Linked DNA regions of Homo sapiens: region 2 is linked to region 1. A link means that fine-mapping ties the variant in region 1 to the expression of a gene that starts in the linked region. Tissue or cell type: whole blood. Region 1 holds a variant in brackets; the other region holds the start of a gene. All regions are shown on one strand. Distances are between the middles of the regions.

Evidence for each region. PIP is the estimated chance that this variant, and not a neighbour inherited with it, causes the effect.
Region 2: it holds the start of IL5RA, and the variant in region 1 is fine-mapped to the expression of IL5RA in whole blood (TOPMed, PIP above 0.99).

Annotation. Positions count from the first base shown.
Region 1 is chr3:3,082,226-3,090,225 of GRCh38, reverse strand. All of the region lies in intron 9 of IL5RA (interleukin 5 receptor subunit alpha), which reads left to right. Among named protein-coding and RNA genes, the nearest start is that of IL5RA, 24 kb to the left of the region's middle. RefSeq lists a silencer at 975-1,144. The variant T/C (reference allele first, on the strand shown) is at 3,798.
Region 2 is chr3:3,106,605-3,114,737 of GRCh38, reverse strand. IL5RA (interleukin 5 receptor subunit alpha) reads left to right here and starts at 4,364. Exons shown (of 12, transcript NM_175726.4): 1 at 4,364-4,793; 2 at 6,047-6,188. RefSeq lists an enhancer at 4,919-4,998 and a silencer at 5,079-5,198.

The DNA.
Region 1 (8,000 bases):
TTTCCTGCCCCACACCGTATCTGAAATAAAAACAACAGCAGGGATAGCAGATTACATGTGTTTTTTAATTTTTATTTATTTTGCCAAGCACTATGCTAAATACATAATCTTAGTCCTATCAAAAAACTTGTTTGGAAAGTTTAGGTAATTGGCTTAACTCTGTTCTGCATGGCCAACAAGTGGCAGGGATGGGGCTCTAACCCCAGATTAACTGACTCTAGCACTTGATCTCTGGACACTCTGGCATGGTGGGACAGGATTCTGCAAGCTTTAAAGTGCTGGGTAGATTAAAGTCTTATTTAAGAGATCTTGGGGATGGGTGCGGTGGCTCACACCAGTAATCCCAGCACTTTGGGAGGCCGAGGTGGGCAGATCAGGAGATCGACACCATCCTGGCTAACATGGTGAAACTTGTCTCTACTAAAAATACAAAAAATTAGCTGGGCGTGGTGGTGCGCGCCTGTAGTCCCAGCTACTCGGGAGGCAGGAGAATCACTTGAACCCAGGAGGCAGAGGTTGCAGTGAGCCAAGATTGCGCCACTGTACTCCAGCCTGGGCGACATCTCAAAAAAAAAAAAAGACATCTTGGTAGCCAACCTTTGTGATTATGGGTGATCAAGCATGTGGATGCCATCTCTCATGAATCCTATGAGGTATTCATCAACCATTGGAAGAGTATACATAGGAGAGATTTAGTTCAGGCACATGCCAAAATGTTCTACTATTTAATTCATTCGCTTAAGCTATGGGGTAGGTCTTCAGGAAAGTCTCGGGCAGTGACCCATCAGCCCATGTGAAAATGACTCCGATCTGACACACAGCAGGTAGATTTCCACTGAAGACTGGGAAAGATAAGGAAAGGCCTAATAAATGGAGAACTGTTCTGAATCTGCCAGGGGGCTGGTCGTGCTAAGTTACCGAGTTCCCAAGGGAGAATAGCGTCCCCTAAAGTTGTGCAACACACAACCAGCTCAGCCTTACAGGGGTAGCCCTCACATCACTCAGAGAGACTTACAGGAGCAGCATGAGCCTTCCTGGGGAGAGGGAACTGAAAGGACACTAAAAGGAAGTGAGAATGGGCTAAACTCACCTGCTTCATAATTCTGTTGAGACCAATCTTCCCCTCCCTCCCCTCCTCCCTAGGTTGATGCCCCCACCTAACTAAACTGACCCAGCACACACAGGACTTTCCTCGACATGGCTCCATTTGCACCAGGAAAATTCACTCTGTTCCCCAGGAGGGAAACAAATACGAGAAGCATTAATCAGTCTCAGGGAATTTTTAACAAGGTCATTAATTTTGTCAAATGCCTAAGGTGGAAGTTTAATTTTTGTTACTTGAATTCAATAGACTTCTTTTTAAAAATGCTTTATGTTACTCCCCAGGGGCACAAAACTCACTGGCTCAAAACTATTGCTATTTCTAAGTGTCTTCCCAACACCTCTCTCTATATGTATTCAATTTTGGAGATTTTAAAATGCTGTCTAAGGAAACTTAAACCAAGATGATGGATACCAAGGTCAGAATCCTAGATAAGAAGTTAGTTATGCTTTCTGAGTCTTTGACTTTTGAAGTCATAGTCAATGTTGACTGTAGAGAATTTAGAACGTATTAGGTGAAAAAGAAGCACTAGATATTCAGGACATCTAGGTTTTTAGCTACGGCTCTGCCAACATCTAGCTCTATGTTATAAGCTAGAGATGACAAAAGGTAATGTTTTGTGAGCAAAGTAATCAGAGACTGCTTAGAGTGCAGCATTGAGGATTCTGAGGCTAAATTTAGATTGTCAGAAGGAATCGTGATCTCCTGCCACCACTGCAAGGGACAGAGTGGTGACGAGCATGACAGGGTTTTTCCACCCTGGCCTAGTCAGTCTACACCTAACCTCTCTGGGCTTAGCATCCTCACCTGTAAAATATAAGTGCTGCACTACAAACCTGCTTCCACCTCTGCCATTCACATTCACCTCCTCTGCACCACCCCACTGCAAAAGTGCTGAGAGTGAAATTGTGATCCATAACGAGCGCTTATTTTAAGCTTGTTTTTAATTTATTATTCACTCTCCACTTTAGAGCTCTCTTACCATTATTATTTCCTAAATAACACCTTCCTAGTTTGAATCTGGGCTCATTATAGTTTTCCCCCAGGTGTACCTCGTTGCCATTATCTATAGCAAATCCCATTTCATTTACTGCCATCCTTTTCATGAAGATGAGCTGATTAATATTACTACTCACCTTATAAATCCATCCTTTCTGGAATTTACTCCTCTGCTCAGTTTAGGATCATTAGTGAATTTAATCAATGTAGACTTTCCATTTTCATCAAGATGATTAATAAACGTAATAGGAAGTCCAAGCCCCTCTGGGACATTTTGCATGGCTCTTTTTTATCCCTTGAGGATGCAGCAATAATTATACTCAGCTAGGAGTCCATCAGGCGATTTTGCTGCTACATTCATTTCCTTTAACTATGCTTTCTCCTCTTTTGCCTTATCTTAAAAACAGCATGCTGTAGCCCTCCCACTCCATTTTACTCCAAGACTCAACTCAAATATCAACCCTTTCATAGTTATTAATTTCCCCCCCATTATTTTAATGTAAGAAAATGGAGGTCCTGAGATACTAAATGACTCAGCAGTTGTCAAACAGCCAAGAAGTGGCTATTAATATACAATTTTCTCAAATAGATGACATATGAGCCAATCAGTGAATTAGAATAGATTTGATTAACTAATTAACCCATTATAGCCCAAGGTTATTTAATTTAAAAAATGAGACACAGAGTAAGTTTTGATTGATGAGATAAGGTGAGCTGGGAGAGGCTGGGGGTGCTGTCCAGCTCTGTTGGTAAGGTCCCTGGCCAGCCAAGGAGCACAGGGGACAGCAGGGAGGGGGTATAGTTAGCAAGTGAGTGCTCTTTGCTTGCTCTGAACAGTGCCTGATTGGCTCTCCTGTCCTAGAATTTCCAGAGCATGGAATTTTTTAAATTAAAAACAATTGTTTTATTTCAGCAGCTTTAGGGGTACAAGTGGTTTTTGGTTACATGGATGAATTGCATAGTGGTTAAGTCTGGGCTTTTATTGTACCCATCAGCTAAATAGTTTACATCATACTGAATAGGTGACTTTTCATCCCCCATGCTCCTCCCACCCTCTCCCCTTCTGCGTCTTCAATGTTCATTATACCACTCTGTATGCCTCTGTGTACCCAAAGCTTAGCTCCCATTTATAAGTGAGAACATATGGTATTTGGTTTTTTGTTCCTGATTACTTTCCTTAGGGTAATGGCCTCCAATTCCATCCAAGTTGCTGCAAAAGACATTATTGCATTCTTTTTGTACAGCTGAGTAGTATTTCATTGTGTATGTTTACCACATTTTCTTTATCCACTCATCGGTTGATAGGTACTTAGGTGGATTCCATATCTTTGCAATTGTGAATGGTGCTGTGATAAACATGCACGTTAGGTGTCTTTTTGATATAGTGACTTCTCCTTTGGAAGATTTCTCAAAAAACTAAATGAGGCCTACAATTTGATTCAGAATTTTTTTTTAAGAGATGAGGGGTCTCACTATGTTGCCCAGGCTGGTCTCGAACTCCTGGGCTCAGGCAATCCTCCTGCCTTAGCCTCCTGAGTAGCTGGGACTATAGCTGGGCTGGGATTTTTTTTTTTATGGAAGTAGCAGTTTCATTTTATCAGTACTCGTTATCACCTGCCCTAGATCAGCTGGCTTCTCTGTCTTATCTTAAGAGCTAACTTCCCAATTTTTACATGTCTTTCTCCTTTTTAAACTT[T/C]CTTAACTTCCGGATTCTTCTGTTCCTTTGTTATCTTTGCTGTCTCCTGTTTATCGAAACCTTTTGTTTCCTGACCCTGGTCTTCATGAAGCTGTGTGTTTTCTCAAGTCCATCATCTTCTCTTCTTCCCGCCATCCATGAAGCTCAAATGCCAAGTGTGAAACGAGGAATGATGAAAATAAATTTTTCCATAGTCATATCCTTGCTTGAGGAAAAGAGACTTATGTGGGTCTACCCTGCACTTATTTCTGGCCGTGTCTTTGGTCAGGATCAGTGGTTCTGAGAACTGCTTCTTCTGTGACAGACTACAATCACTGCAATTGCCCTTCAAAGAAACGATGGAGTTTTGCTTTGACCTCACTGAAAGCAAAATTTGATGGCCCAAATTTGACTTTCGTTAGTCTTGAGATGTATGGCACCTACACCCAGGGGAGTAGAAGACTCAGCACCGTTTTCAGATCACTCATTCATGAGGTCACAGCAATTTTCAGATCACTCATTCATGAGGTCACAGCAGACAGGGGCACAGCAGACAGCTCCTTAAACATAGAGATGTGTTGTTCATAGGAAATCTTGGCCTTTGCTTTCCTGTCGGAGTTTGAGCTGGTGGAGTGGGGGTCTCAGAGTCCCGTGACACATCCTAGAATCTGTTAGGACTTAAGGAAAATGGGTTGAGGTAGGGTATCAGGGTGGCCTATGGCAATATGGGCTGGAAGGAAGGCCACCCCAGAGAAACTCCTGTGCCTTTTTCTTTTGACTTGATATTCATGGGCTGATGTGTGAGGTGACTTGGTACCTTTGTCCTGGGCACCTGGAATCAAAAACTGAAGTCACCTTTGGGACCATCAAATGCATCTTCATTTTCCAGTTTGCCTGCATTGTGCCAAGGTCCCGCAGCTCCAACCTGATTCCTTGCACTCTGACTCCCACCTGGAGCTCTAATCCCTTCTCTCTGTCTCTCCTGATCCCGTCACTCTCCTTCAGCAGCTTTTTCTTGTTAAATTCTCACACTGTGGCAAAACACGAAGGAAGATGAAAGGGAAATGTTGTAGGAGGGTCCACATGAGCTATCCCTAGGCCTTCCAAAATAATCTTGCAAAACTCTTTTGAGGTTACAGATGGGAGCCACTGGGTCTACACAGTAGCAGAAATTGCTTAAAAGTAACAAGAGTTGACCCAATAACAACATGAAAGACCCACTTAGGCTTACCTAAGACTAACACAGCTTATTGTGGTTCTGCTTTCCCTGTGTAGACAGATGGCTTGGTCACACTGCTTCCTTTTGTCCAGGCTGGTTAGATCCCACCTGGCAGCCCCACCATTTGTTCCCACCAGGGGGGGCGGACTGCCTCACGCCTGTGGTCATCCCACTAGCCTGAAGGAGGCCTAACAGGGACCTTTCAGATTTCATCTCCAAATGCCAGGAGCAGGGAGTTCCCACAGTGCTTTCAGGCGCAGCCACCTCTATTGGTGCCTACATCACCCTTCTAGGCATACATTCTGCCTCATGGAGGGATGGCAGCTTGTGGGAGGGAGGGATGCTGTCAGGGGGCCAGCCCCTGTGCAGGACATATTCATCTACATCATCTTTTATCATCACACACATGATTTCCTAATCACACAGGTGAGAAAACAGATGCAGAGAGGTGAAGGAACTGCTGGAAGCTACACAGATAGTAGGTGGGACATCCGGGTTTGGAACACAGCTAGAGGATTGGCTCCACACCTGGGTTCTTTTCGAGATGTTCCATTGCCCCGGGGGCTATTACTCCAGCCAGGGAAACTGAGGCTGGAGGATGGGCCACACTCAGCAAGAGGGGCTGGGGGCTGTGCAAGCAGGAAGCTCTGCCAGCTCTTGACCCTGTCAGCCTCCATCCAGACAAGCCATTGGGAATGAAGTTAGCCTCTTCAGGCCATTCTTGTCTAAATGTTCCTGTCCAAGTTCTTCATAAGATTCATCTTAATGAACATTTTGAACCCTAAATCCTTGAAGGGTAGGAATACCCATACCCTTTTCTGTTCCTCAGTATCTAGAATATTTGGTGTGTGTTTATTTCTCCTGGCCTGAGTTTATCTCTCTGCATTTTTAGAATTCTGATAGCACTCCAATTTTGGCCTTGCTTTGATGAAAGGGAAATTATCTTGATGAATTTGTTGACACAATGCATTTCATCCTAATCGTAATTATAGTAAGTAATATTTATTGAGCACCTGTGTACCAGCACTGTGCTAAGCACTTCACATGTGTTAATTCATTCGATCCTTATCCCTGTTTTATAATGCAGGACATAGAAGCTGGAGAGGCTACCCTGCCGAAGGTCACTTTGGTAGCAAGTGGCAGAACCAGGACTAAACCTTTTTTTTTTTTTTTTTTTATGAGATGGAGTCTCACTCTCTCACCCAGGCTGGAGGGCAGTCACACAATGATCTCAGCTCACTGCACCCTCCACCTCCCATGGGGGTTCAAGCAATTTTCCTGCCTCAGCCACCGGAGTAGCTGGAATTACTCATGCCACCCCGCCTGGCTAATTTTGTATCTTTAGTAGAGACAGCATTTTCACCATGTTGGCCAGGCTGATCTTGAACTCGTGACCTCAAGTGATCCACCCACCTTGGCCTCCCAAAGTGCTGGGATTGCAGGCCTGAGCCACCACACTTGGTCTAGGACTAACCCTCTTTATCCCTTGTTGCTTACTTCTATGTGATGACTACATCCTCTGCAGCCAGCTTTCATCTGCTTTAGCAGGTTGATAAAATAGGCCCAGCAACCCCTTATAGGGAAGAAAGTTCTGGGTTGCTTGGGGGGCTCCAGAAGGTACATAGCCCTTGGTGCTTTGTGGGAAAGCCTGCAGAGAAGAAAACTGCCATGAGGAATTCCCCACTCAACTTCATCAAGTCTAGTCCTACTGGGGGATATTGCAGACAAGCAGTACTGCAGTGAGCCATCCAGCTGATCCTGAATGCACACACAAATACACGCATGCACACAAATACACACACGTACACAAATACACAGTCTCCATTTCCTCTCTCTATTCGGTTAATGCAAGCCCAGTTCCACCAGATGAACATAGTGCAAGCTGTGTGTGTGATCCGGGTCCTTCACTACTCTACACATTTTGTTCACTGAGGCTGCATTTTGCTGCCCTCTTTTTATTTCTCTAAACCAGGTACCTCCCACAGTCCATTTGACAGCTGCCTTGAAAGCTCACTCACCCAAAAGGTCTGCTCCTGACTTGCCTGCACTGGAAGCCTGTGATCTGGTTTGGGATGTTCATTCATGAATGATGCCATTCTCCCCTCCAACTGGAGGCAAGTCACAGGAAGCTAGTTAAACCCTGTATCATAGACTGCCATATTGACATCCTCTCAATTATCCAACCCTGTTGGTGCCATTTGAACTTCTCCCAGCACCTGCTGGCTCTAAAAACACAGCAGGCCTGCTCTGTTGGAAGCATCCCATCAATTTACTAATTAGCTCTTTTCCCTGGAAACCTATTGTTGAGTCTGAAATCAGATTCAAAATCAATATGTAAGCACTGAAAGTTCATACTTACATGCAGAATTTAAGGTGTAACAGGCTTCCAAATCAAATTCATCTCCTAAGAGCTAGTAGTCTAAACTTCATACATCATAGAATTCTAGATCAAGAGAGACTGCAGCCCTAAAAGGGAAGTGGCTTGACAAAGCTCCCAGAGGCAGAGCTGGGACTAGTTTGGGTCCAATACTTGCAGTCCTTCTGCCCTCTGTGTTGCCACTGTCCCAGCCCACCTGCACCCCATGTCCCACTCCATATACATTCTAGGGTCATAGAAGAATAGCAGACTATTGGCTTATTTGCAAGGTCAAATGCTTAAGATGTCAAAAATAATGGAAACTGAGGTCCCCAGACACCAGACAACTGAATTTCCCAAATGCTTTACGTTAGTGATGCCTAAAAAGCACCCAGGAATCAAATGGGGAGTCTGGAGAGCTTCTCCTCCTTACAAGAATAGGCTGTGTGACTTCTTCTTTCTGAAACCCATCTTTGCATAACCAAATGGCAGTGCCCATTGATTTCTTGAAAAGAAACATCTGTGACTTCCTTTTTAATGGCAAGAAAGGTATTCTCCTTGAGTCAGAGCAGAGAGTCAAATTACCTCGAAATACTTTTTTTTTAATCTCCAAGGTTGGAGACCCCAGAATTCAAATTAAGACTATACT
Region 2 (8,133 bases), 24 kb before region 1:
CTTGCTCTGTTGACCAGGCTGGAGTGCAGTGGCACGATCTCAGCTCACTGCAACCTTCGCCTCCCGAGTTCAAGCCATTCTCCTGTCTCAGCCTTTGAGTAGCTGGGATTACAGGCACCTGCCACCACACCTGGCTAATTTTTGTGTTTTTTAGTAGAGACAGGGTTTCACCATGCTGGTCAGGCTGGTCTTAAACTCCTGACCTCAGGTGATCTGCCTACCTTGGCTTCCCAAAGTGCTGGGATTAGAGACGTGAGCCACTGCATCCGGTCTTTTTTCACTTTCTTCATGGTATCCTTTGAAGCACAAAAGCTTTTAATTTTGGTGAAATCCAGTTTATCTATTTTTTTCTTTTGTTGTGTCTGCTTTTGTATCTTATTGAAGAAACCATTGGGTAGGTGCGGCGGCTCATGCCTGTAATCCCAGCTCTTTGGGAGGCCAAGGTGGGTGGATCACCTGAGATCAGGAGTTCGAGACCAGCCTGGCCAACATGGCAAAACCCCATCTCTAGTAAAAATATAAAACTTAGCCGGGTGTGGTGGCACACGCCTGTAATCCCAACTTCTCGGGAGGCTGAGGCAGGAGAATCGCATGAATCCAGGAGGCAGGGGAGTTGGCAGTGAGCTGAGATCATACCACTGCACTCCAGCCTAGGCGACAGAGTAAGATTCTGTCTCAAAAAAAAAAAAAAAAAAAAAGAAAGAAACAAAATGAAGGTCATGAAGATTTATGCCTATGTTTTCTTCTAAGAATTTTATAGTTTTGCCTCTTACTTTTAGGTCTTTGATCCCATTGGAATTCATTTTTGTCTATGCTGCGAGGCATTCTTTTGCATGTGGATATGCACCACTTATTGAAAGGCTGATCTTTTCCCCGCTGAATTGTCTTGACACTCTTGTCAAAAATCAATTGACCCTAAATGCGAGAGTTTATTTTTGACTCTCAATTCTATTAAATTGATCTGTATGTCTCTAATATTTTTTAAAATAACTTTTTCTGCCTGCATTTGTACAGAATAAAACGTTTGTAAATATAGAAACACAGAATAAAAGTAAGAGAAACACTAACCCTGCCGTGGTAGAATGAACTGTTGGTCCCATTTCTTCACTCCCCACTAGGAGTTGTCCATGTCCACATCCTTATCATGGCCTTATCATGGTGGAATGTACTTTGGGCTTCGTCCATTTGACTCCGGGCTTGGCCATGCAATTTGCTCAGCCTCTTGAGATGTCAGGGAATGTGACATGAGCAGATGCTTGATGCGTGCTTGTGCAGTTGGTCCTGCTCTCTTGCACTTTTGCTGTCACCATAAAAAGATTATGCCCTGGGTAGCCACTGGTTCCAAATGAATGGCAGATACTTGGAACAAATCTGAACTCACTTTGTGATCTGGATCCCAGCCCAAGATTAAGCAGACCCCAGTCAAAACTCAGACACATGGGCTACAAATACATGCCTATCACAGTTTACCACTGAGGGTTCTGTGGTTGCTTGTTCTGTAGCAATAGCTGACTAATACACCTACCACTTAGAGATAACTATTCCTGTTAGTCTGATCTTCTGACCAAAAATAAGACTGTAAAAAAAAATTACATGTGTGTATACCCTCCTGTTGTTTTTACTTAACATTTTTTCATAATACCCTATGTTATTAAAAGTTCTTGATTGGCTCATACCTGTAATCCCAGCACTTTGGGAGGCCAAGGTGGGAGGATCACAAGCCAGGAGTTTGAGACCACCCTGGCCAACATGGTGAAACCCTCTCCCTACTAAAAATACAAAAATTATCTGGCATGGTGGCACATGCCTGCAATCCCAGCTACTCCGGGGGCTAAGGCACGAGAATCACTTGAACCCAGGAGGCAGAGACTGCAGTGAGCCGAGATCCTGCCACTGCACTCCAGCCTGGGTGACAGGGCACCACCCTGTCTCAAAAGAAAAAAAAAAGTTATTGATAAACATTCCTTTTGACATCCACATCACATATTTCAACCTTGAGCAGTTACATATTTCTCTTCACCATTCCTATAGTACTTTTACTATTTTACTATTGTAAAGGTACAATGAATTTTGCTCTCTTTTGTATAAATCTTGATCTACATTTTTCCATTATTTCCATGGAATCAAGTTCTAGAAGTTGATACCTTTAATAAGCTCCTTTAACCAAAGTTCATGGTAGAGCCACTGAACCATGATTTTCGTTTTATTACTATTCATATTTCTATTTGGCTAAACTCACATTGTTTTGCTTAAAGGATGCAGACACATTTAATTTCACTTTTTAAAAAAACGACTTTTGTGAATTCTTCCAGCATGTTCTATCATACTGTCTTTGGACGTTTACACTTTATTATAAAGAATTAAATTATTGCCATAAAAAACCAAACAGGCCTCGCTCAGTGGCTCACGTCTGTAATCCCAGCACTTTGGGAGGCCGAGGTGGGTGGATCACCTGTCAGGAGTTCAAGACCAGACTGACCAGCGTGGTGAAACCCCATCTCTACTAAAAATACAAAAAAATTAGCTGGGTGTGGTGGCGGGGGCCTGTAATCCCAGCTACTCAGGAGGCTGAGGCAGGAGAATCGGTTGAACCCGGGAGGTGGAGGTTGTGGTGAGCTGAGATCGCGCCATTGCACTCCAGCCTAGGCAACAAGACTGAAATTCCATCTCAAAACAAACAAACAACCCCCCCGCAACCCCCCGCCAGAAAAAAAAAAAGTCCCTGCCTCTCATTTTTTCGTTTGTGCTTATACAGAAACATAGAGACAGTGTTTCTGTATGAGCATGTGTTTGCTTTGTTTGTTTGTTTGTTTTTATTGGCGTAGTTAATTAAAGATCATATACCCAGGAAGGTGGTATGGAAGGAGCAGCCAGATCTAATTTTCTTTATACCCTTCACCGCGCCTAGCATAGTGCATAGGTGCATTCAATGAATATTTGAGTAAATGAATGTAAGAAATATACAGACCATTGGCTGAGTGTGGTGGCTCACACCTGTAATCCCAGAACTTTAAGAGGCCAAGGCGGGTGCATCACTTGAGGTCAGGAATTTGAGACAAGCCTGGCCAACATGGTGAAACCCCATCTCTACCAAAAATACAAAAAATTAGCCAGGCGTGGTGGCGGGTGCCTGTAATCCCAACTACTCGGGAGGCTGAGGCAAGAGAATCGCTTGAACCTGGGAGGCAGAGGTTGCAGTGAGCAGAGATTGCGCCACTGCACTCCAGCCTGGGCGACAGAGTGAGACTTCATCTCAAAAAATATACATATATATATACGGAGAGAGGCCATTAAAGCAGGCTTTTAAGCCAGAAATTACTGTCTTCCCAATGATTAATAAGTATTTTTAAGGTTTCATTAGTGACAAATATGTTACATGTATAAACAGATGGGCAGGACTTAAAAGAGTAGGCCAGATAGTTGATACTATATCTAAACTTTTCTGGGTGCCTCTTAGCAAATAAATGGATCTCTCTCTGTTCCTTGTTTTACTTCCCCTTTCCCCGAGGAAAATCACATTTTTCAGGTCTGACAACAATTTTCAACCTGATAACAATTGCTCCGGTTTCATTTTGGCAACTGCTAAAATGGTCACCTTGGGAACCCCAGGCACACACGCTGACTGTACTTGCACAGCTTCTACACTGAGCCTTTTGGAAATTGCCTCCAGGAAGCCTGTCTCTCATCTCACAAACAGAACCACTGATCCAACCTGGGCCACCATCTTTCTGCATCTGCTCTGTCTGAGACTCTCCCAGTCAGCTCCTAAGGAGACAGGGAATCCTGCATCACTCATCGCTTAGGCTAGACTGAAGGTCTCCTTCCAAAGGCAACTACTTACTACTCTCTGCCGTGGGTCATACAATAAGCACTACTCTTATCTATTCACACGCTAAGCTACTTTTTTAAAGCCAGCTTTGCTAGCTAGCCACCTCGAAATTCCCCAGAAGGAATCAAACAGAAATGGAACAAAGGACAGGAAAAGCCAAGGAGGTTTGCTGAAATTGAAGCATTCTGAAGACAGCTGGGTGGTAAAATGGATGTGACGTGAGGAAGGTGGTCTTGGGTGCACCCACAGACCAACACTGCCATTGTTACAATTTGTGTAGGATGATCTCAGGTGACAGACAGCAGCAATTTATCACACCCAGAAACGCATCCCCCACACATATTTACTTGAGGGTACCAGACCTGCTCACAAAGCAGAGAAGAGCTAAGGCGGTTCTCTAAGGGCAGAGAATTGCTGCTATTGCCTAGTGAGTGGGGAGAGGGTACTCCTCAGGCCTTACTTCCTATCAAATCATGTGTCAGTGTTGCCTAGGAGACAGAGGCACAGTAACTACTGTAGCCAAACAAGGCACATAAACAAAACAGAAATGCAACGCTTTAGAGTACCCACGGAAAACTTGTTTACCTTGTCACCATGAGTAAAAGTTAATTCCCACTCCTGAAGAGAGCAAACCAACTCTGAAAGAGAGTGAAAATGCAGACAAGACAGTTATCAGATAATGGCTATCTGGACGAGAGATTCTTTCGTTTGACAGCAGTTTGGTTGTTGGGAGTTCCAGTTCAGCTCCTGCACAGTTGCTCTGTACAAATCCTCCTCCATATTTGCTTAGAGAAAACGTGTTGCCATCCCATCATGAAGGAAGCTGCCTGAGAGTTTTTAACCATTACAGCCGTGATGATGAAAGAGTGAAGAACCGCCTCTAAGTTAAAAAGTGCACCCAGAGATAAGGTTCGTTCTCAATGCCCTGCCGCTGCTTCTCATCGCATGGCCACCGCATTTCTCAGTAAGTGGGAATCAAATGCTTCACTCACCACAGAGTAAGCAAATAAATATCTTTTTTCTATGACATGGGCTGTAACAATACCCTGTGCTCCACCTCCTAATAATTTCACTACACCCAGGGTGGGGAGGAGGGTTAGGAAAAGCAAGAAACAATGACTTCTAAATATATGACAAACTTGTAAACAACAAAAAGGGGAAACAAAACTCCTTATAATTCTATTATTATTAGCAGGGACAGAACTAATAATGGTCCCATTAAACTTGCATCATTAGGCAGGTCATGTTGATTCTGGGTATAACCTTCTATTCTTGTGTTTTGGCTCAGTAAGTGAGATGTGCAAATCCGTGGCAAGGTGAGTCATATGAAAACAACACCTATGGTTTTGTTAGTGCTTACATCAATATAAGACATCTGTTTTCCACCGCTCCAGATAATTATGCAATTAAAATGAGAACATATATTCTGCCAAGATTTCTTAGAAAATAAATGAGCTTCCAAAATAGGGTATAGGGTTTAATAAAATATCTCAGGAAGTTTCAGAGTTAAGCAAGAAATCTACAAATAAAGAAACAACAACAAAAAGTAGAGAGAGGCACTTTATCTAACTGAAGGAGGCGTTCTGCTTTTTCTTTCTGGTAGGGGTTCTTGGATTTCCAAGATTGTTTCATTGTATATAAAATGTACCCAAATTTGCTGAAATATGTCACTTGGTTTTGTGTTCACTAATGTATTTACCTAAAGCAAGGTAAGCATATTTCCATGTAGACAGAAAAAAGGATGAAATGGAACCAAAAAAAAGGGGGAAAAAGGAGAGACAGAGCGAGAATATTTTAATACCCTTGAGCCTAAAATTAATAAACACATGAAAAGTGATGGTGCTTTTATAGCCATGTGAATAATGTACTTAGTACTTGCTTTAATGAATTACCATACTGAACATTTTATTACCTGGCATGATTTCTATTTTAAGTGAATATGTCCTCTTTCATGGTTATCGAAAAAGGAATTTATGTAGCTATTTGTTAAAAGTTTGCATTTCAAAGCAAAATAAAGTTTTAGAAGTTAAATCACCTCATTTGTTTATATTATTTGAAACACCGCATGGGAAATTTTTAGGCAAAATACCAAAAGTGGGCCAGGCTTGTTACACACTCCCCAGCCTGCTGCTCTCCTGACCTAACTCATTCCTCTGTTAGGTTTCACCGCACATTGCACATTAGGGCTGTGCACTAATTTGCTTCTATTCCACACAGGGCCAGGCACATTGAGCATTGGTCCTGTGCCTGACGCTATGCTAGATGCTGGGGTTGCAGCCACGAGCATAGACACGACAGACACGGTCCTCGCCATCTTCTGTTGAGTACTGGTCGGAACAAGAGGATCGTCTGTAGACAGGTACGCCCAGGAGCATGGATGTGAGATGACAAATTGCACCATGTGCAATTGGCAGGAAATATTTTGCTACTGGGATATTTGTAGCAAACTCTTTCTTCTATTTTTCCAAATACTCAAGGTGGCAACACCATTTCCACTTGGACTGACAGAGAGTTTTATGTTTACAGCCACAACCTGAACTCATGAGTTCTATTTTAGGACTATTTCAGAAATTTAATCAAAAGTACAGTAGTAGTAAAAAAAAATTGCATGCATGATAAGTGGTCCTTATTATTCATTTATATATTTAGGAATGTGCAGTTTTTCATTGGGGGGTAATGCAATATACCTAGGTAAACATGTCTTTTGCAGTTTATACCTTGGTTTATTCTTCATCCCCCAAGAGATAACTTTTATTGCTGATTATACTGTACAGGATAAAAGAGAAAGTAAACTCTTCATATTTAAAAGCCTACCAGAGCATGAATCCTCTCAGTTGCTTTACAATTTCTGCCACTAAGGTTGAGTCTGGAATTAGGTGTTACCACAGTTGACTCAAAAAGGTTTTAAAAACAGGGGTGCCAGTATAACTTTGGTTATAAAACGAACGCCCCAGGCAGAAAAATAAGTTGGGAAAAAAAAGAGGGGAAAATATTTGTAAGTCTGAACTTCAGTAGAATTTGACCAGTTCTCAAGAACGCTGGGGAAATCCACTGCTAATTGTCAAAATTTTACCAAACTTCCTAGAAACACCTATAGGGAAGGAGACTGTGGTTGTTTTCTCCAAAATTTCAAAAAATGTAACACCTATCAGAAACTAGATTTTTAGAGAGCACTTGAGGAATTTTAGATTGACTCAATGAAATGTTATATGAGCAAGTAGATCATGAGATCATGATTTCTCTTAAAGATTGAGCATGTCTTCCTGGTGATAGATAAACAACCTATAGTTGCTTCATTCTGCTTAGTTTGCATCTTATTTTAACAATTTAATGGTTTTCTGCTAGATTTTAATTGGTAGCCATGAGAAGAATGAGTCGAACATATTGTCGATATATATGTTTAAGCTAATGAAGTCGCTCTATTCTTTTATAGTGAAATATGACCCAGTTGACATCTACATAACAGTGTATCTTTGGATTAAAGAAATGGCCTGAAGAGATTTGTTGTTGCTGTTGTTGTTGTTGTTTTAAGCAGGGACAAGAAGTATTAAGGGGCCACAGAGAGTGAGCAGAATTGTAGAAAACATGGTATCAAATCCTGAAGCTCTAGTACTATTCAACCTTATGTAAAATTTATCTGACTCACAAAAAAAAAAAAATGTCATTCTTTTTAATATTTAGACCCCTACTGAGTACCTTGTGCTGCCTATAGGACAACTGATTTTGTTCAAAAGCACCTCTTTTTAAATATGACAATGAGACATGAAAAAGCTGTCTATTTATTTATGGCCAAAAACTAATAATCAAAAATTTTTTGAATGATTAAATTTGAAAAACAATTCTATTTTTAGCAGCTATAAAATCAGAATACATGACAAATTCTAGGGGAGAGTGCTTGCTCATATAAAATATTCAATTATCTCTCCACTGAGATATTCAACAGTTTTATCATTTACTTCAACAATTTAATTGCAAAGGATAAATACATGTTTATTGCTTTTACAAGTACATTTATAACATAGTTTTACTTTGCCAGTCAGTGAAAGTCACAAAGAAATATTAATTTTGCAGTTTTTTCTGACCTAGAATTCCTATTATTGAAAATTAGTGCAAAATCAGAGCATATTTAATATTATTTCAGGAAATGCTGACATTTTAAGAAATCACCTTCATAACTTAAAGAGGAAGCTATCTTTGTTGCTGTTCTTAAGGAATTTTTATCTTTGCTTCTCAGGCTTAGTAGATTACTAGTGTTTTCCCTTAATTCATTAAAATTCTCACTTGTTGAAAATTTTAAAAAAATT